Regions from separate parts of the Homo sapiens genome. Here region 2 is linked to region 1. The links come from fine-mapping of genetic effects on gene expression. A gene starts in region 1. The other region holds a variant in brackets. All regions are shown on one strand. Distances are from middle to middle.

The links. PIP is the estimated chance that this variant, and not a neighbour inherited with it, causes the effect.
Region 2: its variant is fine-mapped to the expression of HSPB7 in lymphoblastoid cells (GEUVADIS, PIP 0.93).

The regions. Positions count from the first base shown.
Region 1 is chr1:16,011,198-16,027,280 of GRCh38, forward strand. HSPB7 (heat shock protein family B (small) member 7) reads right to left here and starts at 6,846. Exons shown (of 3, transcript NM_014424.5): 1 at 6,568-6,846; 2 at 5,877-6,010; 3 at 2,832-4,562. The coding sequence starts at 6,766. The coding sequence ends at 4,383. It overlaps CLCNKA (chloride voltage-gated channel Ka), which reads left to right and starts at 10,839. Exons shown (of 20, transcript NM_004070.4): 1 at 10,839-10,866; 2 at 11,416-11,522; 3 at 12,603-12,731; 4 at 13,566-13,694; 5 at 14,911-15,050; 6 at 15,339-15,416; 7 at 15,500-15,578. The coding sequence starts at 11,423. RefSeq lists silencers at 1,692-1,901, 2,052-2,311 and enhancers at 5,648-6,394, 6,395-7,139, 14,845-15,753.
Region 2 is chr1:15,988,296-16,001,838 of GRCh38, forward strand. It overlaps the pseudogene TBC1D3P6. Among named protein-coding and RNA genes, the nearest start is that of SRARP, 9.2 kb to the right of the region's middle. RefSeq lists an enhancer at 5,601-6,441 and a silencer at 6,348-6,497. The variant T/TGTGAGGACTAA (reference allele first, on the strand shown) is at 8,775.

The DNA.
Region 1 (16,083 bases):
AAATCTGCACAAATGGCCAGGCGTGCAGTGGCCGGTGTAATCCCAGCACTTTGGGAGGCCAAGGTGGGTGGATCACCTGAGGTCAGGAGTTCCAGACCAGCCTGGCCAACATGGTGAAACCCCGTCTCTACTAAAAATATAAAATTAGCCAGGCATGGTGGTGCACGCCTGTAATCCCATCTACTCAGGAGGCTAAGGCAGGAGAATCGCTTGAACCCAGGAGACGGAGGTTGTAGTGAGCCGAGATCGCGCCATTGCACTCCAGCCTGGGTGACAAGAGTGAAACTCTGTCTCAAAAAGAAAAAAAAGAAAATCTGCACGAGTGCACAGAGCAGCACTAGTCACCAAAACCAAAGGGTGGAACCAAACCCAAGCATCCATCAACTGATGAAAAGGTAAGCAAATTGTGACCTAGCCATGCAACAGAATATGTTTCAGCCTTAAAAAGGAAAAGATTATTGGTCCATGCTACAATATAGATGAATCTCGAAAACATTATGCGAGGTGAAAGATGTCAAATACAAAAGGTCACTTTTTTTTTCTTTTTCTTTTTTTTTTGAGACAGGTTCTCACTCTATTGCCCAGGCTGAAGTGTAGTGGCTCAAACATGGCTCACTGCAGCCTCAACCACCAGTGCTCAAGCAAGTCCTCCAGCCTCAACCCCCAAGTAGCTGGAACTACAGGCATGTGCTACCATACCCTGTTAATTTTTGCATTTTTTGTGGAGATGCAGTTTTGCCATGTTGTCCAGGCTGATTTCAAATAAATACTTTGTATTTATTGAGCTCAGGCAATCCACCCTCTTCAGCCTCCCAAAGTGCTGGGAATGCAGGAGTGAGCCACCACACCCGGTCATTTTTTATTTTATTTGAGTCAGGGTCTCACTGTGTCACCCAAGATAGAGTGCGGTGGTGCGATCACGGCTCGCTGAAGCCTCCATCTCCTGGACTCCAGCCATCCTCCCACTTCAGCCTCCCGACTAGCTGGGACCACAGGTGCACGTCACCATACCAGCTAATTTTCGTATTTTGTGTAGAGACGGGTTCTTGCCATGTTGCCCAGGCTGGTCTCTAAACCTTGGGCTCAAGAGATCCTCTCACCTCAGGCTCCTGAGCATGCGCTACTTCCATCTGACTTTGAAGACAGGGTTTGGGAAGGGGCTCTGAACATCTGCCTGGGCTCTTTGTGCTCTGGCTCTGGAGGGCTTCCTGGAGGAGGAGGCCTTTGGCCTCTGCTAGGCCTTCAAAGTGAGGAAACCTTCTAGGTCCTCTCTGCCCCTCCCAGTCTCTGGTACTACCTGACCTGGACTTTCTCACAGGTCTCCAGCCCCAGAGAGCTGCGTCTTTTCAATTTCCCCTACCTGCTGCCCAGGCCCACCCCCAAAGCTACAAGACGCGAGAGCCCCCTTTCCCTGTGGGGGCTGCCAGGGTGGGAGGAGGGAAGCTGCCTCAGCCCATTGGTGGTGGCGACTGATCCAGGTTGACCCAGCAGATGGCCTTCCAGAGCCATAGCAAGGATTCACATCCCAACCGTGCCACTTCCAGGCTGGGTGACCTTGGGCCAGTTGCCTGACCTCGCTGATCCTCCGTGTCCTTCTAGGCACACCGTTAATCATAGTACCTGCTTTGCAGGACTCTTGTGGGAATCAGCGGCGCGCCTGGCACACACTAGTTGCTCAATGAATGGGGCGGCTATAATTACTCTTCCGGGTGGGGGCGGGGCGCAGGGCCTGCAGCCAGGCCTATATTTAGCCTGGAAGGGGGTTGGGGGCGCTGGGAGACAAAGCGCCGCGGCCAGTCTGGGCGCCCAGGGGGCGGAGCCGGCGAAAGCCCCGCGGCCGACCCGCCCTCCCCTACCGCAGGGTCACCTTGGCCGGGCTGGCGGCCAAGGGCTCCTTCAGACCCGACGTGCCCCAGCGGCCCAGCGGCCGCTTGGTCCCCTGAGCAGTCCTCATCCTCGCAAACTGCTGTCTGGGGAGGGGGCTGCTGGGGGCTGGGGGTGGTTTTCGGCCCCACTGACCACTTGGGAAGCTGCCCCCTTTCCCAGCACCGGCCGGCCGAGGGAGGGCTCGCTGAGATCCGTACGCCAAGGTGAGCCTGACCCCGGGTGGGGGGCGTGGGAGGGGGAGCCAGGCTGGCTCCTCCCCCAACCTCGCGCCAATGAGTGTCGGGGCTGCAAATAGCCCAGTGGAATCAGTGAGTCATGGAGGCTGGAAATACCGCGCCCCCTCTGATCCCCTCCCCTCCTCCTGACCGCAGCCGGTGGAGCTGCACTGGGGAGCAAGCCTGGGGGTGTGAGGGGTGGGGGACCCCTCCGGAGAGCTCCCCTCCCCAGGCTCCCTGAACCAACCCGGACACCCCCGCCCCCAAGTTCCAGCTGGCTTTGCCTCTGGGGCTGTGTGACCCTGGGCCAGTCACTCAGACTCTCTGGGCCGCAGAATCCCCATTAGGTACAAGAAGGGCTTCAAGAGGGCAGGCGACCCGGTGCAGCCTGCCCACCTTTGCGTCCCTGCGCCTGGGACTGAAACAGTGCCCGCCACATAGCAGGACAGTAAATATCTCTGGAAGGAAAGAAATAATAAAAAGGGAAGGGCAGGCAGTTGGACGAGAAGGTGTTGCAAGGGTTTTCCAGAAACAATCCTGGGGTTCCTGCCCAGGGGGGTCTGGGGAGCCCACGGAGGAGGCCGAGGAACGCCCACATTTTGTGAGGTCTTCAGCTTTAACTTGAGCTACAACCCCCATCCCCAAATCTCAAAGAAGGTGTGTCTGTTTCTCTCAGGGTTTCCAGCCCTGCCCTAAGTTTGAGAACTCCAGGCAGGCGGCCTCCAGAAGTCTGTGAGACTGTCCTTTATTGTGTATACAGGTTCCAGCGTCAGGGCTCTCCCACGGCCCCCTCCCCAGTCCTCCCCCAAGGGGCCCAGAGTGGTGGGAGTGAGAGGCCACCCTAAGGCACACTGACCAGAGAGGCATGGAGGGAGGAGGCTGACTTGCCCTGGGGACCCCTGCTAACTGAGACCCACCCTTCCCCTCCACCCTGCTTCTGTATGTGGGAGACGAAACCAAGAGTCATTGGGGGCAGCAGGCATTTCCCAGGGTTAAGGCTGATGGAAGGTCCCTATCCCAGATGGGAGATGGGGGCTTTTCCTATGACTCCCCCCCATCCCCCAGCTGGAAGACGTGGGGAGGGTTGCATAGCCTTAGAGAGGTAGAATGAGGGGAAATACTCCTCAGTGCCCAGAGGTGGGGAGTTGAGAGCAGCAGTTGACACCCTGGGTTCAGATCTAACCTTCAGTGACAAAGCACAGCACTCAGTGGCTCGGGGATGTTTCCCCGTTAATGAAAATGGAGATTGTAAATCTGATTTGAGAAAGCTCTGAATTTGGCCTCAACCAATGGTAATGCTGAGTATTTGAAGGACAACGATAGGGGTGTGTGTGTTACACACACCGAGCCTATAGATTCATAGATTAAAGAGGGGGATGGATGGAGAGCTGACTGCCCGGAGGGGAAGGTGGCAAGAAGCTGGGGTCCAACCTCGAGGACCCAAAGCCCCATCCATGCCCTGGCTTCCATCTCTGTTAGGTGATCCTGTCTGCATGGGAGCAGCCCCAAGAACACAGGCCTGTGGGAGGGAGAAGGACCAGCCCCACCCCCAACCCCACTTGGCCTTGCCTGGAGGCCCCAGCAGGCGCAGGACGGCAGGAGTTTCATGCAGTTTATCACGAACCAGCTGTATTGGAAAAACCCCATCTATATACAGATGTGGCATGGCTCTGCCCTGGCACAGCCAGCTGGCTGGGGGCACGGGGTGGGCAGGCAGCCTGCTCGCTGGCGTGGGGCTTGGAGGCTGGTAGAGGGGAAGTTTACCGTCACGGCTGTCTCCTCTTGGCCTTGCTGAGCCCTCGGGCAATTAGTTCCACTTAGATAGGCACCCTTGCCTGTGACCTTCCCTCTGTCCCTCCCACTCCCCTTGGCCAAGAGGGTTCCAGGTCCCTGGTCCCCTTGCCCTGCAGAGACTTCATAGATCAGAGGGTTTGTCTGTCTGTCTGTCCTGCAGAGCTTGCCCATATGTCCTGCTGGTCCCATTCCCCTGACCCACAGTGGGTTCTTTAGATCTTCCTTCCCTGACCCCAGCCCCTGTACTCTGGATTAAGTGACGGAGGCCAAATCTGAAATCTGGGCATCATGTGTCAGGCCAGGGAGTCCCTGGCCTGCCCTGGATAGAGTGGAGGGCCCTAGTTTGGGAGGATGGTCCACCTGGGGTCTGGGGTGCGTGGGGGCTAGAACCTGGGCTGAGATGTCCTGGAGCTGTTGTAATGGGGTTAGCGAGGCTTTGCTGGCAGGCGTGGGGCGGGGGGACAGGGAAAGGGAAGGGAGAGGCACTCAGATTTTGATCTCCGTCCGGAAGGTCTGCTGGACGTGTTCTGTATGCGGGTGACGCCGTGCCCGGATAGTGAGGCTGCCGTCCTCCCGCAGAGCCGAGGTCACCGACGTCGGGTCCACGTCCTCCGGCAGCTGGCACTTGTGAGCGAAGGTGTTCATGACAGTGCCGTCAGCCGCCAGCTGGGGAAGGGGTGACCCGTCAGGCAGGCTGCCCCGACCCCTGTCCTGCTTGTGACAAGCCAGAGCCCTCTTCTCCCCATTCTAACCCCAGCCAGACCCCACATGCCGAGGGGCTCTGCCCTCAGGTGCCGAGGGGCTGCCCAGGGTGGTGATGGCCACAGGCCAAAGGCTCTGCAGGGACAGCGCAGGGGTGCTTCGCAGAGCTCCAGTAGCTCCAAGGAACAGGCCAGGGACATGGGGAAGAGGTGGGGCTTGGAGAGAGAGGAGGCTCCGTGGCAGTGGCTCCGAATCTGGGGCTCCTGGGGAACGTGGAGGTGACAGAGGAGAGCCGTGCCTTCCTGGATCCCCGGGCACATTGGGCATCTGCCCGCCAGGGCTGAGCGCCGGCCCCTCCCCCGCAACTCAGCCAGCACATAGTGTCCAGGGGAGTTTGGGGCGGCTGAGTCACTGTTGGGGGTGGCAGGGCTGGCACATGCTGCCTGTGGGTTTTGGTGCCCCCAGTCCATGGCATCCCTGGCAGGGACGCCCAGAAATCCACCCTTGAATGTGGAGGGGAAGAAGCCAGTCCTTGGGGGCTTAGGAGGAGGCTTGGGTCAGGTCCTCTCCTCTCTCCTGGCAGCCGTGGCTGTCCCTGGGCAACGCCCCTGTTCAGGCCTGGCCATACCCTCTCCAGGGTGGAGGCCCCAGTGCCTCCTAGAAGTTCGGACTCAGACACGCTAGAGACCCAGTGACCCTGAGACCTGTGGGCGGGCGCTGTGTGTGGTTTGGAGTGTGTGTGACCCGAAACTGCAGGGCCCCTGCCCAGCCTCGGGCCTAATTTAGGGGTCCCAAGATGGGGGATGGGTCTCCAGCTGTGGGAGGGAAGAGGGCTTGAGGTGGGTCACATGGAGAAACCCCTCCCCCCACTGCCCAGGTGAGTTCCCCACCTACCCGCATCCGCCCCCCTATAGCTACCAGAGGAGCTGTCCTCACTCTGCCATCACCATCTCACACCTGTCATCTCCCACCCTCAAGCCCCACCCCCTCAGGCTCCCTCTGCCCACATCCCTCCATCCCTCTCCCATTCCTCGGAGGCTCCCTCAGCTGCTCAGGCCCTGGAAGAAAGGATCTGGGAACCTCGGTGCAAAGAGAGGCAGTGAGGGGGCCCCATGGCCATGGGTTGCAGGGACAAGGCCTTCAGTTAGCCCTGGGGGAGTTTGGGTGGGGAAGGGACACTGGCCAGGGTCTGGGGTCCCAGGATGGTAAGGGGGAGTAGGAGACATTGGAGGCAGGAGCAGAATTTGGGATGCGGTGAGTAGGGGGTGGGGGGCTCACCTTCTCAGCCCGCACCTCGATGTGGTTGTTGGAGGTGGTGACAATGATGTCTTCAGGTGAGAAGTCTCTCACGTCCACCGCAAACTCATAGGCGTCTCCTAGGGTCTTGATGTTGCCTGCCCCACCGGGGCGGGCTGTGGGATGGGCTGCTGTGAGCGAGGCATGGAGCAGGCCTTGCATGCAGATCCGGGGGTTCTGGCTCCTTCTCTTGGGGCAAGGGGCGGCTCCCCCAGGCCCTACCTCCCCCCTAGCTGTTTCTCCCTAAGCTCCTCCTCATTCCTACAGCCCACCTTTTCTGGGGTGGGGGTGGGGCCTCACCCAGCACAGTGTGTGTGTATATGAGGCTAGGTCTGTAACAACCCCACCCCAGGCCTGGAGCCTGGGGGCTGCCCCCCACCGCTCACCCATCCAGCCCTCCAGGGCTCCAGCTGGGATTGGCTGTGGTTACAGAGCATGGGTGGCCATGGAACCATGTCCAACCCCCAGGGCCACAACTGTTCCTTAGAGGCCCACCTGTTTTCATGGCCACATCTGTCCCTGTGGCCACATCTGTCTTGGTGGCCACACATGGCTGCAGGCTGTGCAGCACCTGTTCCAGGCCGACCGGCAGCCACAGCGCCTTCGGTGGCGCCCTGGAGCAGACGTCCCCTCCCTGTGCACCTCCCCTCCCCTCAGGGCCCGGATCACTTGCCTGGGAAGGCCAGGGGCTCCGAGTGGGGCCGCATGAAGCTGCCAAAGTCATCGGAAAACATGCTCAGGGCCTTCTCCATGGGCGGGTCCTGGGCCGGGAGAGCACGGGAGGCCGAGGAGGAGGTGGAAGAGGAGGAGGAAGAGGAAGAGGAATGGAAACTTCTCTCCGCTCGGAAGGTGGAAGAGGTTCTGTGGCTCATCCACGGACGGCGCCGGGCCCTGCCCAGGCGGGCGAGGGCTGGACAGGAGAGGGTGTGGGCGCAGGCCTCTGGGCGAGCGTGCCAGGCTCCGACTGCGGCCGCTTTATAAGGCCGACTGTCCCTGGGCTTGGGGCCAGCCCCTTGTCTACTAGCTAAATTTAGGCCTCTCCATGGCCCAGAGGGGGCTGGAAATCTTCTCCCGTGCGCCGGCCCTGCTGACAGCCCGACACGCAGGCCGAGAGGGCTGAGCTCACAGCCTGACATTCCAGGCTGATCACAGCAGCCCCAGGGGCCTCCTCACCACTGCACAGGGCTGGATCCTGTCTCCTTGCCACTCGGACCTCGGTGCCTGCCCCAGAACCTTGCAAGTTTGGGGTTTATTGTGTGTTTTGTTTCCCCCGTCAGCCTGGGGGCTCCTGAGGACTGTGCCTCCCCTCCAGACTCTGGTTCTCCTCCACGGCTGTACCTCCTCCATCAGTGTGCAGGCTCCTTGGGGACAGGGTAGGTGGAAGCACCACCGCTCTGTGACGTCAGGAGCTCCTTCCCTCAAGGCAGACAACCTTCACAGCCCATCTCTAAGGAAAGGTTGAGCCCTGCCAGGGGGTGTAAAATGTGCAGCTGTCCCCTGCCAGCCCCCATGGGGACCTGGATTCTGTGCCTGCACTCCCTCTGACTCTCAGAACATTCAGCAGCCCCAAGAGGACAAAGTTGGCAGCTTTCTCCTTAAAGGTCTAGAAGGTTGTGTTCCCGGCAACTGTCTGCTCCATCTCTGTGTCAGAGGTGATGCCTGCGAGCGCCTTAGGTGGGATTTCAGTCAGAGGTAAAAGAGAATTCCGGAAGACAATTATTCTAGCCCTGAGTTCTAGAATGCCTTCTGGGCATGGGCTCCTGGCTGCAAGCTGTCCAGCACGGCCCCGTTTGATCCCCACACAGCTGGGAGGGTGGAGGGGCTCTTCCCATGTTACGGACGGGGAAGCGAAGCCTCTTGGAAAGGGCGGGGCTCGCAGTTGCGTAAGTGGCAGAGCTGGGATTCGAACCTAGATGTGTTGGACCCAAAGCCCTTCAGAGGCCGAGGTGGTTTGAACATGTGCCTATGGAGACAGGCTGGCCCGGAAGAGCCAGAGAAGCCCCTCCCTACCCACCTGCTTGCTCAGCAAAGCTGGGACTGACCTTGCCCTGGGCCAGGGTGGAGGCCATTCTGAGAGGCGGCCAGGCCCTCTGCTCTGCCCAGGTTGCAGTTAAGGGCCTCTGCTGTCCTCTCCAAATCCGTCCCTTCCGTCCCAGATCAGCTCCAATGCCTCCTCCCCCAGGGAGGCCTCTCTGACTGCTCCTGCTCACATGGGCCCACACCCAGTCCAGATGCCCCCAGCACTGACTGTCTTTGTCCTCCCACAGCACCTGGCAGTGTGACATAGTCTTCCTGTGTGCTGTGACTCTCTGCTGTGTCCCTTCTTCCCTATCCAACTGGCAGTTCCCACGGGGGCGAGGGTTCACCTGTCTCCCCATTAGATTGAAGGTTCTTGAAGACGGGCAGTTTCTCTTTTGTCTGAGCCCCCTACAACCCAGTCTGGAGCTTCATCCTGGAGAGCTCCTTCTACAGGGGTATTAGCGGTGCTGGTGGTATGTGGAGTGGAAGCAGAGCAGGGCACAGGGCACAGCGGCGGGCCAGGCTGTTGCCTGGAGCAACAGGGCCTGTTGCCTCTGGCAGAGTTTCCTGCCCGTGTCGGGGCCTGTGACACCCAGCCTGGCTGAGGGGTTTCTAGGGCAGCTGGGAAGCCACCAGCACTGAGGTGAGATGGAGAGAGGGTGGGGCGGGGTGGGGGGCCCAGAGCCTGCCGCTCGCCAGGGAAACAGGAGCCGGTGGCTAAATGCAGACACACTGTCATGGTGCTGAGGGCCTGAGTCACTGCCCCTGGATGTCAGATCCCGTTACCCACCCCCGCCCACCATTCCTCCTCCCCTTTTTCCCCCTTCCCGAGGCATCACCCACACAAATACTGGATCCTCTGGCTTCACTGACCCAGAGGGACCTCAAAAGGTCATCAAGGACATTCCCCTGCCTCTACCTTCAGATCACAGAGACAGAAGGAGCTACAAAGATGATGCAGTCCTTTGAATCCCAGTCACCCAGGAGAGCTTTTCACAAACACAGACCCTTTCCTTGGACCCCAGGATTTTGATTTGGGATCTGGGGAAGGGACCTCACATCTCTTCCCATCAGCTCCCCACACAGCCAGCTCATAGGCCAGTGATGAAGCCCTCATCACTCAGTAGGTATTCATTGAAACCTTGCTATAAATAGGTGCTGGGCACTGTTCTAGGCTCTGAAGGACTCAGAGATGAATAAGGCAGAGACAGGCCCCTGCTTCCAGGCTCACCTCATCATACAGAAGAGGAAACTGAGGCTCTAGTTGATGAAAGAGTTAGGGTCAGCAGAGCTGTGCTGGCTTCAAACCGGTCATCCTGCTGAGCCACCCTGGCTGCCCTCTTCTCAGCCTCCTGGTGCACACAGGGCTGGGGGGTGAGGGTAGATGTGGACGTGCAGTGCTGGCTGTGGGACAGTAGCCAGCAGCTGCCCCAGACCAGACACTGGAAATCGGGATGTTGACAGGGCAGCCAGTTCTGGTGCTGTGCAGAGTCAACAGGTCGGGGTGGCCAAGGTGAAGGTGGGCTCGAGTCCATACAGAGCGGCAACTCCCATCCCACCTCCCACAACACACATCTTTGATTTTGATTTGACTTGCCTGGCATCTAGGGGCAAAGGGTGGCCCAGGGTCCCAGATTTTAACAATCATCCAAGGGCTATCATAAGCTTCAGAGGGTGGCTTTGTCTGGGTGGGAGTGGAGGCAATTGTCCCCAACCTCTTGCCCAAAAGTGGCATCAGACACAACTCTTCTGTTCTGTGCCCAAACCATTGCCCTGGTTCAGCCTCAGGAGCTGGAGGAGCTTTGGGCAGGGGAAGAGCTGCACAGTGTGGGGCTGGGTTCAGCCTCTGCTGTGTGACCTTGGATGAGTGACTCACCTCTCTGACCATCTACAAAATGGCGAGGCTCTCCCCATTCACAGGGTGTGGGAAGGAGGACTTGAGCTGCAGATGTGACGCTCCTGACACGTCGCAGGCACACGGCAGGTGCTTGTTCCTCGCCATGTCCCCTCACACCTGTGCTGCCATCCTCTGTTGGGGTGGGACAAACTCTGTGGAATTACCCAGAAGTCCCCACCAGAGCCGCTGGCCCTTGGACGTGTGCTTTGAGAAGCATTTCCTGAGCCTGGAGGGTCTGGACACAGGATCAAGTCCGAGTTCCTGACCCCAATTCACTGCCTTGCCCCAGGTGTCGGCCTCCTCGCCAGCCCTGGACAAGATGGGTCATCAGGATGGGACCGTGTGGCACAGCCTGCGGGCTTTGGAGCCAGGCAAACCTGGGCTGGGAATCCTGGCTCTGCCTCGGCCTCCGTGATCTTAGACAGGCAGCCCCAGCTCCCTGAGACACCATTTCTCTACAACGGGATCACGCTGCCTGCCTCGTGGGATTTCCGTGGGCACTCAGGGTAATTAATCTGGGAGAAGGCTGACTCTCTACCTGACACACAGGGAGGCTGTGGTCATGCTGGCCCCACTCACCATTGCCCCCCTGCCTTCTCCTTCCCTTCCCAGCCTCCTCCCCTCTCCCTCTGTGCTTTTTCAAACCTTCCATGTCCAGCTCTGAGACCCCTGGACCCTGAGTCTCAGCCTTGGCAGATGACCCCTCTCTGTCCTGCTGTGTGCATGAGCTCCCCCTTCCCAGCCCTCGTCCAGCAGCACCCAGGAGCCTGAGTACAGCTGGGCACCACCCTCTGTGCAGCTGTGATGGGTGGGGAGGCTCCTGCTCCCCTTCTCTCTTGGCAGTTCTGCCCTGCACAGCTCTGGCCTCCACAGTTCTGGTTGGTTTGTCAAGGACGTTTTTAATCTCCATGGTAAACCCCGGCCGGCGGGGAAGGGGGGTGGCAGGGAGAGAGTGATGATTGGTAGAGCATATACCTGTCCAGGTGCACTGGAGCTGGGAGCAAAGGAGGCTCTGTGAGAGGAGGGCCAGTTCAGCCGCAGCAGGAGGACTGACAGGTGAGGGGTCTCTGGGCGTGGACTGGAGTATGAACCTGGAAGGGCCAGGCAGGCAGGGCATAGGGGATGGTAGGGGCAGTAGCCAGCACCTCACTTTGGCTTTGCAGAGGCCTTCTGGTCCTGGGGTTTTCCTGCCTCTGTGACCTGAGCTGTCGGGGAGAAAGGAGGGTGCTCCGAGATTGGCAGGGAGAGTCGGAGCCATCCATGGGACTCTGCAGTGAGAGAGTCACAGCCCTGGGCAGAGACTGCTCCCAGTAGTGGAAGCACCAAGCGACCCAGGAGGGTGGGAGCGGTGTCCACAGTCTGCTGCTGGACACAGGGGGACACCTAGGAATCCCACCCTCATCCCACAAAATGACACACACAGGCACACACCCTCAGTGACGGAACCTCAGGGATGAGGGCACACACAGACCTAGTGTGATAACACACACACACACGCACAATCCTTCCTCTTCATTTGGGTGGGGAGAGCACTGGAAGGGCCCAGAGGCAGCGCGAGGACGTGCAGCAGCTCACCCGGGTCCTTCCCTCCATCTGCTTCTCCAGGGGCCTGATGGAGGAGTTGGTGGGGCTGCGTGAGGGCTTCTCAGGGGACCCTGTGACTCTGCAGGAGCTGTGGGGCCCCTGTCCCCACATCCGCCGAGCCATCCAAGGTGAGAGCCAGGTCCTCTTCCCTACCCGCGGGGGACCACTCAGGACATCATTCCTGCCTGGCTCCCACCCCACCTCTCTGCCCAGGAACCACCCTCCTGTCATTTGTCCAGGACATGACTGCCCAAAGTCTCCTGGGTGGCAGGGAGGGAAGGGGTCTGTCTGTCCAGCTGTCTGTGGGTCAGATGGGCCAGGCATCTGCCCTCTGCCTTTCAGGAGATACAGCCCAAGGCCTGGTCACTGTGCCTATCTTCCACCCAGGCCTCTCCCTCACCTACCTGTGCCAATGAGGGGACGTGGGGGTTAGCTGCTGGGACAGCTGGGGGCACAGCAAGGGGCTGGGGCAGCCTGCACTTGGCACCCTTCCTTGGAGCCCCATGTGCCTTGTTCACTTTGAGACCTGACTGTCCCCTCAGCTACGGGGCAGAGCAAGTAGGGACCACAGAAGGAGACTAAGTGCAGTGCCAGTGGCTGGTGCCCACAGCCAGTGAGGGCCAGCTCCCAGGCTGGGCTGCAGCCAGCGGGCCAGGGGCATTGCTGGGGACCCAGAGGATACCTGGCGCCACAGGCCCTGGGACACGCAGAAGTCTGCTAGACCCTGGTGCTCTCTAAGCTATGGATCCTGCAGGGATACAGGTGAAAGCTATAGCTGCCAGCCCCCTTCACACTCCCTGTCCCCCAGGAACCTCCCAGTACAGGCACGGGTGGGGAGAGTGGACAGGTCAAAGGCCTTCTGGCAGGGGCAGCAGTCCTGGCATCCACTGTGCCACCACTGTCACCTGCCACAAATCCTGCCCAGCCCCCAGTGTGAGGCAAGCCAGCAGAGGGTAGCTCCAGGCTCACTCAGTGGTGGCCTGAGGTTCTGTTCAGGGCTCCTCCATCCTGACACAGCCATCTGCCAGTCCCAGTGCGAGGAACGTGGACAACTTGCATTCCTCTCTGACTCAGGCGGGGCCCCCTCAGGACTACCCCAGACTCAACTACCAGGGTCCTCCCTGCCTGGAGCCAAGCAGACCTCCAGGGAAGGGGCTGTCTGTGCCCCTTGCCCCAACATAAGCTGGGACTCCGATACCCTGCCCCAGGTGGCCTGGAGTGGCTAAAGCAGAAGGTGTTCCGCCTGGGAGAAGACTGGTACTTCCTGATGACCCTCGGGGTGCTCATGGCCCTGGTCAGCTATGCCATGAACTTTGCCATCGGGTGTGTGGTCCGAGGTAACTCTTCCCTGGCAGGTGCTGCTCTGGGCCAAGGGATTCTAGGCACGCTCTGGGGATACCAGATGGGCCACCAAGTGCAGCGGTGCAGGGACGGACCTGGGTGCGGGGAGGGCTCTGGCTCTACTCCTGATTTGCTCTGTGATCCTGGGCAGGCTCCTGCCCCTCTCTGGGCCTCAGTCTCCTCAGCCGCACAAGGAAGAGAGACCTGAATATTCCCAAGAGCCCTTCCTCCTCTGAGCTCTCTGGCTCCTCTTCCAGCCACCCCGTTCCTTCTCCTTCCCTCCTCCGTGCCTTGGGGCAGGAGTGGGGACACTTGCCTAGATCACCAAACTTGGAGTCTTCCCCCTGCTCCCTCAGCAGCCTGCCTCCACCCTGAGGCCTCCCTGGAAGAGGGGGTGTGGGCAGGAAGGGTCTAAGACACTTTCTCTGGAGACCCTCAGCTGCCAGAAGCAGCACCTACTATGGTGTTACGGTGTTTGGTGCTTCACACCTGTGTCATGTAGTTCTCAGTGGCCCTTTAGTCTTTAATGTCTTTAGTCTTCAATGAGCCTGTGAGGAAGAGCCAATCACTAGCCCACTTGGCAGATGGGGAAACTGAGGCTCAGAGAGGCTGAGTGGCTTGCCCAAGGTCACTCAGCTAGGCAGTGGTAAACCTGGGATATGGACCCAGGGTCGTACTCCTGCCTTTTCTTGGGGGTCTGCACCTCACTCTGTGGCCTGGTCCTCCCCTCTTCGTGACTCCATTTCCTGGTCAGTAAGTGGGCACCACAGTGTCTGGCCCTGAGGGCTGCAGAGGCTGTGGGTGCCTCCCTGATACGCGGCTGTCCCCAGCACACCAGTGGCTGTACAGGGAGATTGGGGACAGCCACCTGCTCCGGTATCTTTCCTGGACTGTGTACCCTGTGGCCCTCGTCTCTTTCTCCTCAGGCTTCTCCCAGAGCATCACGCCCTCCTCTGGAGGTGAGTCCACGGTCGCCATGCCAGTCCCCAGTGCCAAAACCTTCTCAGATCCCAGGGGGCTTCTGATGGGGGGAATCGGGAAGCTGCAGCCTCATTTCTCAAGCCCAGAAGAGTTATGTGGCTTGCCTGAAGGCACACAGCAAGAAGGCCAGATCTTGACTCTTGGGTCACTGCTGGCCCTACTCGCTTTCCAAGGGCTCCTTGGAAGGAGATTGCCCTGTGGGGCCTGTGCTGGTGCCAGGAAGGGGCCCATGGAGGAGGTGCCGCTCCCTCAGGCCACTCAGCCCTTCCTCCAGCTCCAGGCCAGCAGAGGGGAGCTCCAGGCTCACTCAGTGGTGGCCTGAGGTTCTGTTCAGAGCTCCCCCATCCTGACACAGCCATCTGCCAGTCCCAGTGGGAGGAACGTGGACAACTCGCATTCCTCTCTGACTCTAGCATCCAAATCTGCAAAATGAGTTTATGCATCCTAACCTCTGAGGGTTCTGCGTGATCATAATAGGACTAGGTGCAGTGACTCAGTCTATAATCCCAGCACTTTGGGAGGTGGGTGGATCACTTGATCCCAGGTGTTCAAGAGCAGCTTGGACAACATGGTGAAACCCCATCTCTACAAAAAATAAAAAACAACCACCACAACAAAAAGTTAGCCAGGTGTGGTGGTGCCTGCCTGTAGTCCCAGCTACTTGGAAGGCTGAGGTGGGAGGATCACTTTTGAGCCTGAGGAAGTCGGGGTTATAATGAGCCGAGATCGAACCACTGCATTCCAGCCTGGACAATAGGGTGATACCCTGTCTCAAAGGAAAAAAAAAAATCATAATGTGAAAACACCGTGCGGGTAGAGTTATGAGAGTTTTTTTTGTTTGTTTGTTCGTTTGTTTTTGAGATGGAGTTTCACTCTTGTTGCCCAAGGTGGAGTGCAATGGCACAATCTTGGCTCACTGCAACCTCTGCCTCCCAGGTTCAAGCAATTCTCCTGCCTCAGCCTCCCAAGTAGCTGGGACTGCAGGCACCCGCCACCATGCCCGGCTAATTTTTTGTATCTTTAGTAGAGATGGGGTTTCACCATGTTGGCAAGGCTGGTCTCGAACTCCTGACCTCGCGATCCGCCTGCCTCGGCCTCCCAAAGTGCTGGGATTACAGGCGTGAGCCACTGCGCCTGGCAGAGAGTTTTAATCTAGAGATTGTCCCCTGCTTGTTCCTGTCCTGTCTGGCTAAGGTTCTGGAATCCCGGAGCTGAAGACCATGTTGGCGGGTGTGATCTTGGAGGACTACCTGGATATCAAGAACTTTGGGGCCAAGGTGGTGGGCCTCTCCTGCACCCTGGCCACCGGCAGCACCCTGTTCCTGGGCAAAGTGGTATGGTCAGGTGTGAGGGCACCCCAGCCACCCCGCCCACCCTACCCTGCCCCAGCTCTCCCCCATACCCCACCAAAGCTGGGTCAGAGCAGACTCAGGCCAGTGCCTGCCTTCAGGGAGCTCAGTCTTAGGGGAAGAGCCAGGCCAGGTCCCCAGTGTGACAAAAGCTACCTGAGGACAGCCCTGGGGGTTGGGGAGATGGAGGAGGGGGTGTGGTGGGGAAGCCGTGCTGCCTCGGGGTGAGACTGTCTCTGCTGCCCTCACCTGGGCCCACCCTTCCCTCTGCAGGGCCCTTTCGTGCACCTGTCTGTAATGATCGCTGCCTACCTGGGCCGTGTGCGCACCACGACCATCGGGGAGCCTGAGGTTAGGGACTCGGGGGCTTCCTTGGAGAAATGGGAGTGGGGAGGGAGGGGGCTGACTCTGAGCCCTGGACTCGGATCCCCCAGAACAAGAGCAAGCAAAACGAAATGCTGGTGGCAGCGGCGGCAGTGGGCGTGGCCACAGTCTTTGCAGCTCCCTTCAGCGGTGAGACCCCCCTCATGCCCCGCCCCCTGGGTCCCTCAAGCTCCTCCCCTCACACCCTGGGCTCCCTCGGCCCAGCTGAGAGCCTGGAGGAGGGGATGGGGCTCATTCTTGTTCTCACTTCAGCCCCGCTTTGGGTATAGCCACCCCCCGGGGGCGGCGGGGCGGGGCGGGTGGTTGGGGGCGTGGTTGGGCGGTGCTGAGAGGCTTCAGGATAACATTACACAGACTTGGGTTTGAAATCCACTGGCCCCTTGGCCTCTCTGAGCGCAGCTTCCTCCTCTGTAAAATGGGGATCAAACCGTTCCCACCCGATAGGGAGAGGGCGCACACCTGCATTCCAGGCTGGATGGATCCCTGGGCAGCGGGGTCCTCCCCGCCCAGGGCGCAAGCCCTGCCCTCCCCTTCTGTCTGTCCCTGTCCGGGCTGTAGGACAGCAGGACAGATGGCTCAGGGAGGAGGCGAGATGGGGGAGGGGGCCCTACAGCCACAGGTGGGTGGGGGTGGG
Region 2 (13,543 bases), 24 kb before region 1:
GCTAGCATCAGCACCGATGATGCCAGTGATCCAACTACTAAAGAGTTTAAAACTTTAATTTAAAAACTTTTAGCTGAGAATGGTTTGGAAAGCCTCATGTTACACTCCTTCTCAAATCTGGCTCTTTATCGATACCATTCCTACAAAGAGACATCATCATGGTTTATCAGAAGACACAACCAAAATCCAGTGAGGAAGGGCAGCCGTCAAAGGTTTTATTCATCCGGGCATGGTAGCTCACTCCTAATCCCAGCACTTTGGGAGGCCGAGGTGGGTGGATCACCTGAGGCCAGGAGTTCGAGACCAGCCTGGCCAACATGATGAAACCTCTCTCTACTAAAAATACAAAAACTAGCTGGGCGCGGTGGCAGGCGCCTGTAATCCCAGCTACTCGGGAGGCTGAGGCAGGAGAATCGCTTGAGCCTGGGAGGCGGAGCTTTCAGTGAGCCAAGATCTCACCACTGCACTCCACCCTGGGCAACAGAGCGAGACTCTGTCTCAAAAAAAAAAAAAAAAAAAAGATTTTATTCTCCAGGAGAAGGGGTTCTTGGGGGCTATAAGCAGCAGGCAGAAGACTTTATTGCATGTGTGGTTAGGTGATAGCAACCTAAGTTTGCATTGGGAACTGGCATCAAGAGTGACCCGAACTCCTACTCATGAACCTCTCTCTCCCTGTCTCTCTCTTTGCCTTTTGTGTCTCTCTCTCCCTCGTCCTCTCAGCCTCCTCTGTCTCTGTCCCCATCTCTCTTCCTCTCTCTCGATCTCACTCCCTTCTTCCCATCTCTCTTTCTCTCTCCTTCTTCTCCACTTCTCTCTCCCTCCTTTTCTCCCTCCCTGCCACTGTTCAGGCTTCTGGGCCCCCCTGGACAGGTGCACACAGGACTCCTAGACCACCTTTCAGGACACATGCACAGGGCTGCAGGACCTTGGTCCCCCACCTCCCTGTGCCCTCAAGGTCAGGGGTGTGGGGTGTGCCTGGGCTTTCCTGGGCGGGTGCCCCACGCTCCATGAAGTAGAAGTTGTAGGTCACCATTGGCTCGAGTGGTGCACCCACCGGGCTGCTGGCTTCCTCCTTGTGATCTGCTGAGGCCAAAGCAGAGGACACCTTCCCAGGCCCGACCCTGCGCCAGGGTGGGGTAGGGGTGGGTTTGGAGGTCAGCATGGGGATGGGAGCAGTCACTGCAAACGGGTCCCTGGCTGGCTTCCTGCCCTGCACTATGCCATGCAAGGCCTCCTCTCCCGCCCTTCCCCCTACCCCACCGCCTCCACCTCTAGAAAGCCCCAGGCACAGGCTCCATAAGTCTCTGTGGATCCAGGAACTAAGGGCATCCACTGGGCTCCAAAGCTTGGCAGTGTCGCACACAGGACAAGTGCTCTCAGGAGACATTTTGGACAAATTGCTGAAATGCCTGATGGACATGGCTCTTGTCACAAAATGAATTTGCATCCTGAGGAAGCCTCTTCTTCAAAGGAAGTTTCCCCAGTCACCTCTGCCCTCTCCGATGACATGAATCGTCCCAGGTGACCTCAGCCCTCCCAGGTGATGTCTTTCCACCATAACTCTGGCTCTCTCAGGAGGTAGACTACTGCAGGGACCTGAGCCACGTCGCCGCCTTGTTCCTCCTTTATCTGCCTGAGGAGGACATATTCTGGGCACTGGCCCAGATGCTGGCTGGTGAGAGGCACTCCCTGCAGGGTGGGTGGACAGCTGCCCCCAGGGCCTCATGCAGCCAGACCCGGGGACGGCCACCCTGGGCAGGTGATCTCAACTTTCCGTGAAGGCACCTTCCTTGTGTTGCCAGCTTGTTTGGAGCCTTTAGGATGTCTCTGTTGAGGGTCCTGGGGCTGAACCGGGACCCCCAGATCCTGAGTCAGATGCCTCTCACCCCCATCAGCAGAGGGCATCTCATCATCCCCGTGGCCACCCTCTGTGTCCTGGAGCAACGCCCTCTGGCTCTGAATGCTGTACAGTTGACTCTCCCCTCCCTGAGGGTCCTGCCCTCCAGCTGCCCTTGGTACCCACAGATGGGCCGAAAAAGCCCTGATGGCAACATCTCCCCATCCCGTGTCCCCTGGCCCGACCCCACTTCTAGGAGACCACCATGAAGCCCAGCACCCGCCCTCTGTCGTGGCCTCAAAGTCAGGCTTGCCCTCCCAGCACCCTGGCCCAGGAGGCCTCCAGGAGCACCTCCAGCCAGGCTCCAGGGGATATTCCCACCCCTCCTCCCCAGGGCCAAGGCCGCATGGTGGGGTCCCCAGATGAGAGGGTGGGAGACCTCAGGGTTCAGGGGCCTCTGCAGCTGTCCAGCTCTTCCAGCTGATGGTCCCACATCTTGGGAGCAGGCTGATTTCATGATGGGCTGGGGGCTTCTCAGGATTCCACAGCCCAAATAGCGCAAGGGTCCAGGGCCTCCAAGACCACCAGGAGCATGTGGCACCCAGGCCATACCCCAAGACCATGAGGCACGCAGTGAGTTTATGGTCCCCCCAGCTCTTCCCCAGTGGCCCTGCATCCTGTGGGGCCGGAGGAGCCAGGGGCTGCCAGACCCTCATGGGGCTGGTGAGAGGGTGAGTTCTAGCCAGGGCCTGACCTGGGACGTGGGGTTCTCCATGGATTTGGAGTTGGGTTTCCTTTCCTGCCCTGGAGGAGACAGAGGCACAGGGACTGGGGCCAGTTCCCACAGAGCAGGGCTAAGGACAGTGTGTCCACCAGGAGTGCAGGGAGGGGAAGGTGTAAGGAGCCCTGGACACCGCCCAGTGTTCTGCACTTGGGGAAGGGTCTTCAGAGGGCCCTGGAAGAGGGAGGTTTTTAGGGCAGCCCAGAGGGACCTGAGCACCTCTGTTCCTCCCATCAGGACAAGGAAGGGCTATGCATTCAGGGTTCCTCATTAGGTTGGTTGCTTTGGAGCTTGATCAATGGGGTAAGGAGGCACAGGGAGACCCTGGCTCAGGGACCCTCCTTGCCCTACAGGGCCCTGCTCTTCGCCCAGGGGTCCGGTTCACCCCCAGCACATAGGAGGCACAGGCAGATATCTGCAGGACACACAAGCAAAGCCCTCTGCCCAAGAGGGGTCATCCCACGGCAGAGGCTGGGACTCAGGCCCAGCCTCATGGGCAGACTGGGCCAGGACCCACTTGGGAGGGCTCAAGGAAGCCTCAAGTCCTGGGGAAGCCCCTCTCTCCAGAAGCCACATCCCCACTGAAATGAGTGCTCCCCCATGAGGAGCTGCAAGACCTTGTCTGACCCAGCCTCCTGAAGGGGTCTGATGACCCTCATGGGAAGGGTCAGTGACTGGGGGACTGAAGCCCCAGTGGGCCCGGCTCGAGCCACCAGCCCCCAGCCTGGAAGGGCCAGGTCCTCCCACACCTGCTGTCCCCACAGATCTCTCTCGGGCTCACCCTGAGCCTTTGGGACGTGTATTTGCTAGAAGGGGAACAGGTGTTGACGCCAATGGCACGCACTGCCTTTAAGGTTCAGAGGAGTAAGTCCACGTGTGCCCAATGGGGACTGGGGAGCACAGGGGTCAGACCCTGACTGGCCCGGTGGCAGCTTCCTCACACTGTCCCCATGATCCTCTTCTCTGGCCCAGAGGGAGGTCTGGCTGGGTAGGCTGGGCAGGGAACAGTGACATACCCCCTCCTGTGGGAGCCCATCCCCTACATGACCCAGATGAAAGTCAGGAGTGTGGTGAGCACTTCCCTGCTCAGGCTGCCCCCTAGCCACAGCCTCCTGTGCACATCTGGACCCCTGGGGTGGCCACAAAGGGATCCGGCACTCCCCAGTGGGAGATGCTGAGGTAGTAACGGGGTATGGGCTCTGACCCCTCCCAGGGAACACTCCTAGCCTGATGCCTACCCTGTCCCTAGAGCACCTCGTGAAGATATCCAGGTGTGGCCGTGGGCATGTTTTCAGGACCAGTTTTCCCATACCTGGGCCCTGGATGATGATGCAGTTCTCAGACACCCTTGGGCCTCTATGAGGAAACAAGGAAGCCTGGGGACCTGCCACCCCCAGGTGGCCTGCAGCACCAGGTACCCTCCCGAGTCACCCCCTGGGGCAGTCAGTAGTTGGGGAGTGCCCAGGACCTCCAACACTACTACTTGGGCCTTCCTCTTCGCCTTTTCTTCCTCCTCTTCCTCCGGACTCTAAGAAAGTACAATAGGCCCCCAGGTCCTCAGGGCAGGTGGTCAGTTTGTGTGTACCGGACGTGCTGTGCAAGCAGGAGGGGGATGTGCGCAAGACTCTCCAACAAGCCCCCTCCCACTTTCCACCATGTCCCACTCTCCCCTTCAAAGGGCCCTCAGGGTCATTGGAGGAACCAGATCCATCTATGGGACTCCCCACCCCTCCCTGCGAGCACTGACAGCCTCAGAGAGCAGCAGAGGCTCCTCACTCCTGAACACCCCTCCAAGGGTGCCAGGACAACAAGCCTTGAGCCAGAGAGACAAGGGAATCTATGTCCCTGATCCCCGACCAGGGCGTTTAGTGGGTGGGCACAGGGGGGACCCCTGGCCCAGAGCCAGAGCCAAGAGTTCAGCCAGGTGTGGGAACGGTCAGTCCTGGCATGGACTGGGCAGCCCAGGAGGGCAGAGGGGGCTCTGTATCTGGGCTCTCTCACCCACCGTGGAAACAGGTCTCCATGTGAGGTGGCGAGGGGACTGGGTGACAGCCAAGGCCCCTCCCACCTGAGTTCTGACTGGAGGCTGTATCCCAGGCTCAACAGTCCTGGGATGACGGCATGGGGCAGGAAGCCCCCAGCCAGCCTGAACTCTGGGGGAGGGCAGTCCCAGGAGCCACCTGCTGCACCCCGACAGCTTCCCACCACAGGAGGCACAGACCCCTCCGTCTGCGATCAGCAGCCTGCAGGTGTGTCCTCAGTGTCAGACCACAGGGGCTACACAGAGACCCTGAGGACTCCAGAGACCCAGGCAGGTGGAGCCCGGCCAAGAAAGGACTGCGTGGGCTCACTGGAGATGCTGACCACGTCTGTTTCTTTCAGCCAAACCTGAGCAAGGGTCCTTGGCACCCAGGCCTGGGCTGGCTTCACCTGGCAGGAAGACCCTCTGGCAGGGGGACAGGCAGGCCCCTCCTGGCCCAACAACTCGGTTCCAGTGGCCCATTTGGCCAGCTTCCCCGCCATGGGTGGCCCGTTTGGTCAGCTTCCCCTCCATGGGTGCCTCGTCCTTTCATACCCTGTCCTGATGGGACTATCTGTGAGGCCAAGGCCCAGTGGCACGAGGGGGCTTCCATGGAACCTAGGGCAGCAGGCCATTCTCTGGGGGCACCGGGGACTGAGGGTGTGCCCAGCCTGGCCCTGGCTCAGGGGGAACCTCAGGTTTCCTGGAGGTTCCTCCAGTGGAACTCCATGCCACGGCTCCATCCCTATGAACCTGGATGTGGGGGGCCCTCGTTGCCCCCCGTTATGATTTTGAACAGAGCTGCTGGGTCCAAGTCCCTTCCAAATGTGTCCTGGACAGCCCCAGGACCATGGGACAGCCTAGCCCAGGAAGCCCATGGGGACCCCGAAACCAGGCCCTGCCCAGGCCCATCAGGACTAAAAGGGAGGTCGGGAGATACCCCGACTGCAGCGTGGCACCTGTGTCTGGCCCGCTCGGTGGTCAGTGACTGGCAAGTCTGGAAGGGGTCAGGGTGGCACCCCGCAAGCTGCACCACAGCCCCAGACACCTCGGAAAATCCCGTTCAATGGGGAAGCCAGTCCCATCAAGGCCACGAGAGAGAAAGGTGAGCATGGCATCCCCGCAGCCCCGGCCAGCCAGCAGCATGCCTGGGGCCTCTGTCCCAACCTGTGGGACAGTGTCCCCCTCCCAAGGCACAATTCCCAAGCCAAGAGGGGTCTGGACTAGACCCCAGCCCTGGGAAGTGAGGGGCACCAGGGGTGTGGTGGGCTCCCAGCTGCAGTGAGCATGACCATGCAGGGGACCCTGGCACTGCGGAGCTCTGCACTGTCACAATTCACCTCGCAGAAGCTGGGTGAGATCCCGAAGCCTCGCAGCCACTGCTGGAGCCACAGCAGGCGCCCCCACCACGTGCCTTCCAGCTGCTGGTGCAGGCTTTCCTGACAGCAGGGCGCCCTGCAGCCCTCGCCTCAGCAGCTCAGACTTGGAAGGTATCTGTGGCTCAAGTTCCCAGTGCTCCCACCGAAGAGAATTACTACGGAGGATGCTCTGGGTCCTGAGTCGAGCAAAATGGCACGCCCTATGGATGCAGCCTGCTTCTTTCCCGGCCACCACGCCTGCTGGATGCGCCCACCGAGCAAGTGGTCTTGAGACGGTCATGGGGACGGAAGAGGTTCAGCATCCTGCACGGGCCCTTACCAAGGCTCACTAGGCTGACACCATGGCTGAGCGCCCTCTCTATTGACAAGAGACTTGCACCCAGTCCCTGGGATGGACCAGCTGGCCACCTGCTGGCAGGCTGGTCACACTGCGGAGGGGGCTGAGATTGGCTTTCACTGCACTGACCCATAATGTGGACATGGACCTGCTGGCCCTGCAGGGCACACAGCACTGCTTCCGACTAGGGGACCCCATTCACAGCTAGAGACATGCAGCAGTGTGTTCCCACCTCAGGGCCTTGGCTCTGCCACCTCTACTTGGAATGTTCTCAGTTCCCTCCAGGCTTCTAGAAGCATCTAGGCCAGGGCTCATGACTGGATAAACAACCGAATCCCCACAACCCAAACAAGCTTTTCATTCTCATTTTATTTGGTGTTAAACTTAAGAAAATGTATTAAGACATGACTTACATCCCTGGTAAGTGTGCAGCTCGAAAGACATTCACAGATGGAACACACCAGCCCCCAGATCACAAAGCCAACCATGGCCAGCCCCTCCAGCGCCCCCGGCCCCACAACCAGTGTCCTGACTTCCGTTGACACCATGAGCCTGTCTTTTGTACTTTACACTCATGGAAGGATAAACACTTTCACGTTTTAAAATAAATGTTTACTTTTGAAATGATTCTAGATACACAGAAAAATTGAAAAGACACTGTAGTGTACTCTACACCTTATACCCAGCTGCCCCTAGTAATGACATTTTGCATTACCATGGCACATTTGTCCAAACTAAGAAATGTGGGCTGGCTGTAGTGGCTCACACCTGTAATCCCAGCAATTTGAGAGGTTGAGGCAGGTTCACTTGAGCCCAGGAGTTTGAGACCAGCCTGCGCAACACAGGTAGGCCTTGCCTCTAGAGAAAAGTAAAAAAAAATAGCCAGGCATGATGGCGTGTGCCTATAGTCCCACCTAATCAGGAGGCTGAGGCAGGAGGATTGCTCGAGCCCAAGAGTTCCAGGAAGCAGTGAGCTATGATCGCACCACTGCACTCCAGCCTAGGTGACAGAATGAGAATTTATCTCTTTAAAAAAATTAATTTATCTTGGGTGCAATCCTGTTAACTAAATAATAATGTTAACTATTATCTAAAGTTATTAACGCAGTAATTATATTAACATAGTGAAATTTTTTCAGATTTCATCCTCTTTTGCCTAACTTCTTGTACCTGTCCTGGGATCCCACCTCAGACTCACCCTCTGCCTTTAGGTCACTTCTCCTTAGCTTCCTCCAGAGGCTACAGCCAAACACACACCTGGGCTGAATAGTAGAGCTGGTTGCTGCTGGGTTCCAAACCTCTGCAACATGTTACTGTACTAAGTACTATAGGCAATGGTAACATAATGGCGGCTATTTGTGGGCCGGGCATGGTGGCTCATGCCTGTAATCCCAGCACTTTGGGAGGCCGAGGCGGCTGGATCACCTGAGGTTAAGAGATTGAGACCAGCCTGGCCAACGCGGTGAAACCCCGTCTCTACTAAAAATACAAAAAATGGCTGCCCAGATATCTGCTGGGCATGGTGACGGGCACCTGTAATCCCAAATACTCAGGAGGCTGAGGCAGGAGAATCGCTTGAACCTGGGAGGCGGAGATTGCAGTGAGCTGAGATCGCATCATTGCACTCCAACCTGGGCAACAAGAGTGAAACTCTGTCTCAAACAAACAAGCAAACAAACAAAAACAATGGTGGCTATTTGTGTATTTAAACACAGAAAAGGATCATAAAAATACAGTATAAATGATAAAAAATGGTACACCTGGCCAAGTATGGTGGTTCATACCTACAATCCCAGCACTTTGGGAGGCCATGCTGGGAGGATCACTTGAGCCCAGGACTTCTAGACTAGTCTGGGCAATATAAAAAGACCCCATCTCTTTTGAGATATCAATTTTTAGAGATGGTGCACCTGTATAGGGCAGTTCCATTATAATCTTATGGGACCACCATCCTATGTGCATTCTGGCATGGACTGAAATATCATTATCTGACATGTGATTGCATAAGTAATCTAGAGATGATTTAAAGTCTACGGGAAGATGTACTTAGGCTATATGCAAATACTGCACCATTTTATATCAGGACTTGAACATCTGTGGATTTTGGTATTTGTGGAAGGTGGTGAAACTGATTCCCCTACACACACCGAGGGACAACTGTAAATCTTCCGGGCCCCATAGAAGGCTCAATTCCCTGCACCCCCACCCCCAGATAAGCATTCTAAAGTGTTTGTTCACTTTACCTGCTCATCCGTGAGCCAGAGGGTTCCATCAACAGCTTGGGCTGTCTCAGAGAGACCTGGATTCAATCCCATTCAGCCACTTAGTGTGTCACTTTGGACAAACCATGTAACTTCTCTGAGCCTCAGTGTCCTCATCTGTAAACTGGGTTGATCATGGTCCTTACCTCACAGGGCCAC[T/TGTGAGGACTAA]GTGAGATGAAAGCTGACACCGCGAGTGACACCACTTCTCTCTCCCTCAGACTCAACAGGAAGATGCCTTTGCTGCCCAATGCGAAGGTTATGGGGAGGACGCGAGGCCCCAAGGTTCCCCTGTCCCAGGAGCATAAACCCTGGATTTTTGCTTCCAGAAACAACCACCTCTAGGATGAGGATGGCTCTCAACTCCCCAAAGCCTGTGCTACCACCCCACAAAGGCAGCGTCTTCAGCAGTGGGGAAGGGGCTGCACTGCGCCAGCCTCACCCTGGCCACTGTCTGCCCTCATGAGTCAGAGCCCAGCTAGGTCCTCAAGCAGAGCAGTGCAGAGTCCGGCCCCAGTCCCAGGCTCCAGGCATCCCTGCCACCCCCACCTGCCCCCACCAGCTGCCTCCATCCCTTAGCCCCTGCTTCCCTCCTTCCCAGCTCAGGATGTCTTAGCTCCTTACATGTCCCCATCATCTGTCTCCTCAAGGGGAGTGCAGCACAAGGGCAGGGAACTCGGCCAGTCTATGGCTGAGTCTCCGGTGTCTGGGAGAGATTAGAAGCTCAACACATACTTGCCCAGTGTCTGTGTGCATTTCATCAAGCAGAAGACAGCTTTGGAAATGAGAAGAGACCCTCCTGAGGCGACAGTCCTTAGCTGCCATTTCTCAAGTATTCTTGGCGTGCCACGCACTAAGCTGGACCATGGACATGCGAGCTCTGGAACCCGTGAGGTGCTGTCACTCATGCACAGGTGGGTTGGCTCAGCCCTGGTGCAGTCACATAGCTCCCTGCTAGCTGAGCTGAAATTGGAACCCATTCAGTTTGGCTCTTGCACTGCACAATGGCTCCCCAGCTCCTCTGAGTGAGAACTAAAGCCTTGCAATGCCCTCAGGTCATTGAACCTGGGACTTCTCTTCCTGAGCTGCCTGCCGCTCTTCCCTGCTCACACCAGGTCAGATGCAGACCTCCCCTCTGGGCCTGAAGCATATCAATCATGCTCCTGCCTCAGGGCCTTTGCACAAGCCATTCCCACTGCCCGGAATGCTCCCTGCCCAGATATCTGCTTGGCTGACCCATCACCTCCTACAAACCTTGCTCAGATCTTGCCTCATCAATGAGGACAACCCTGGCCATGCGTCTAGAGGGCGTCCAGCACAGAGTATGTGCTCAATACACAGGTGAAGAAGGAAGAAGGAAGGGATGGAGAAGAGAGAGGTGAAGGAAGGGCAGAATGCCTATGGCCATTTTTATTCCAGTGATAACTAGTTGCAGTGAATACCTAAGGGCAATGCAGACAGGGCAGAAACAAAGTTCACAAAAGGCCAACATGAGCAGGGTGGAAAAATGCAGCTCTACTCATCTGTCCTGGTGCAGATTTGAAGACTCCAGATGTGTCACATCTGGGCAGTCCCTTCTCTGCCCCCTCCCCTCTGAGCTCTCCTTCTACCTCCAAGCCTGGCCCATCTTCTAGGGATCCAGGACAACACAGGAAACAGCTGTGCATCTCCCAGGACACTGGGAAAGACTGCCAGTGGGGAAGATGCTCAGTGGCCCTTAAAACTCATCTCGGTTTTGCTCCAACTGTGCAGCCCATCCACTCCTGTGAACAGGAAGAGCACTCAAATGAGAGCCCAGACACTAGACCCTATTCCTCTTGACATCTGAACATCTTCCCCATCCCCAGCATTTCCCAGGGTCCTGGGAGAGGGACAGCTGTCTCGTGGATTGTCCTTCTTCACCTGTGTATTGAGCACATACTCTGTGCTGGACGCCCTCTAGATGCATGGCCAAGAGACAAGAGCGACAAGAGCAAAACTCTGTCTCAAAGAAAAAAGAAAAAAAAATGTGGGCCAGGCACAGTGGCTCATACCTATAATCTCAGCACTTTGAGAGGTCGAGACGGGAGGATCACTTGAAGCCAAGAGTTCAAGGCAAGGTCTGAGCAAGGTTTGTAGGAGGTGATGGGTCAGCCAAGCAGCTATCTGGCCAGAGAGCATTCCGGGCAGCGGGAATGGCTCGTGCAAAGGCCCTGAGGCAGGAGCGTGATCGGTACGCTTGAGACCCAGAGAAGAAGTTTGCATCCAGCCTGGTGTGAGCAGGGGAGAGCAGCAGGCAGTTCAGGGAGAGAAGTCCCAGCTTCAAAGGCCTGCGGCTGCTGCAAAGCTCTAGCTATTACTCAGAGCAGCTGGGGAGCCAGCAGAGGGTCCTGGGCAGAGAAGGGTTCAGCTGTGGCTCGGGCGTTAATAGGCCACATCACACCTTTGGGGAGAAGAGGGGGACCAGTTGGTTAGTCCAGGTAAGTGATGAAGGGTGCTCAAACTAGGTGGGAGAAGGCAGGTGGTGAGAAGTGTCACCTCAGGATCATTGTGAAGGTGCCACCTGCATGATTTGCTCGTGGACTGAATTTGCTCAGATGGGGGTGTGGAGGGAAAAGGAGAGTCCAGTCCACAGGCCCGATGAGCCACGCAGGAGTCAGACTGAATGGGTTTTATTTATTTATTTATTTATTTTTGAACAGAGTTTTGCTCTTGTTGCCCAGGCTGGAGTGCAATTGTGCGATCTTGGCTCACTGCAACCTGTGCCTCCCGGGTTCAAGTGATTCTCCTGCCTCAGCCTCCCGAGTAGCTGGGATTACAGGCATGTGCCACCACACCCGGCTAATTTTGTATTTTTAGTAGAGACGGGGTTTCTCCATGTTGGTCAGGCTGGTCTCGAACTCCTGACCTCAGGTGATCCACCTGGCTTGGCCTCCCAAAGTGTTGGGATTACAGGTATGAGCCACTGCGCCCTGCCCTGAATGGGTTTTAATTTCAGCTCAGCTAGCAGGGACCTATGTGACTGCACCAGGGCCAAGCCACTCAGTCTTTGTGAAGACTGGGTCTTGCCATGTTGCCCAGGCTGGCAAGGAACTTCTGACTTCAAGTGCTCCTCCTGCCTCGGCCTCCCAATGTGCTGGGACTGCAGGCATGAGCCACTATGTGCAGTTTAAAAAATAATTTTTGACTGGGTGCGATGGCTCATGCCTGTAATCCCAGCACTTTGGGAGGCAAAGGCAGACTAAGCACAAGGTCAGGAGTTCGAGACCAGCCTGACCAACATGGTGAAACCCTGTCTCTACTAAAAATAAACAAAAATTAGTCAGGCGTAGTGGCGTGCGCCCATAATCCCAGCTACTGAGGAGGCTGAGGCAGGAGAATCGCTTGAACCCAGGAGGCAGAGGTTGCAGTGAGCCGAGATTGCGCCACTGCACTCCAGCCTGGGTGAGAGAGTGTGACTCCATCTCAAAAAATAATAATAATAATAATAATTTTTAAGCCGGGGCAACATAGTGAGACCCTATCTCTACAAAAACTTTTAAAATTAGCTGGACATAGTTGCATGAACCTGTATTCCTAGCTACTTGGGAGGCTGAGGCAGGAGGATGGCTTGAGCTCAGGAGTTTGAGGCTCCAGTGAGCTATGGCTGTGCGCTGTGCACTGTGGCACGCACCACCAAGCCTGGCTAATTTTTGTATGTTTAGTAGAGATGGAGTTTCACCATGTTGCCCAGGCTCACCTAGAACTCCTGGGCTCAAGTGACCCACCTGCCTCGGCCTCCCAAAGTGCTGGGATTACAGGCGTGAACTACCGTGCCTGGCCAATAATAATTTGTAAATTTTAGAACAATTTCCAATGTATTGAAAAGCTGCAACGGTTGTACAGAGCTGTATACACCACATCCAATTTCCCCTATTGTCAACACGTTACATGACCATAGAATGTTTGTCGAAACTAAGAAAGCAACATCAGTACATTATTAGCGTCTAAACTCCAGGCTTTATTCAGATTTCACCAGTATTTCTGCAGTGCCCTTTTCAAGATGCAATTCAGGATACCTCCACTGTAGCAAGTTTTCATGTCTGTTTAGTCTCTTCTGGTCTGTGACAGTTTTTGTCTCCCATTGTTTTTCATGATCTTGAGAGTTTGGGGATTGTACATGTATTTTATGGAATGTTCCTCAGTTTGGATTTATCCAATGTTTTTCTCATATTTAGACTGGCGTTAGGAATTTTGGGGTAGGAGACCACAGACATAAAGTACCCTTCTTGTCCTATGGTATCAGAGGTGCCTGCTATCACGCGTGTCCAGTTACTTCTTTAAAAAAATTGTGGGGCCAGGCTCAGCGGCTTACGCCTGTAATTCCAGCACTTTGGGAGGTCAAGGCAGGAGTATCTCCTGAAGTCAGGAGTTGGAGACCAGCCTGGCCGGCATGGTGAAACTCCATCTCTACTAAACATACAAAAATTAGCTGGGCGTGGTGGCAGGCACCTGTAATCCCAGCTACTCGGGAGGCTGAGTCAGGAGAATCGCTTGAACCTGGGAATCGGAGGTTGCAGGTTGGAGTGAGCCGAGATTGCACCATTGCACTCCAGCCTGAGCGACAAGAGCAAAACTCCGTCTCAAAGAAAAAAAAAAACTGTAGGCCAGGCATGGTGGCTCACACCTATAATCTCAGCACTTTGAGAGGCCGAGATGGGAGGATTGCTTGAAGCCAAGAGTTCGAGACCAGCCTGGGCAGCACAGTGAGACCCTCCATCTCTACAAAAGGTTTTTTAAAAAATTAACCAGGTGAGGTGGCATGAGCCTGTAGTCCCAGCTAATCAGGAGGCTGAGGTGGGAGGATTGCATGAGGCCGGGAGGTCGAGGCTGCAATGAGCCATGACTGTGCCACTGTACTCCAGCCTGGGCAACAGTGAGACCCTGAAGGAAGCAAGACATTGTAGTAAGATATAAATAAC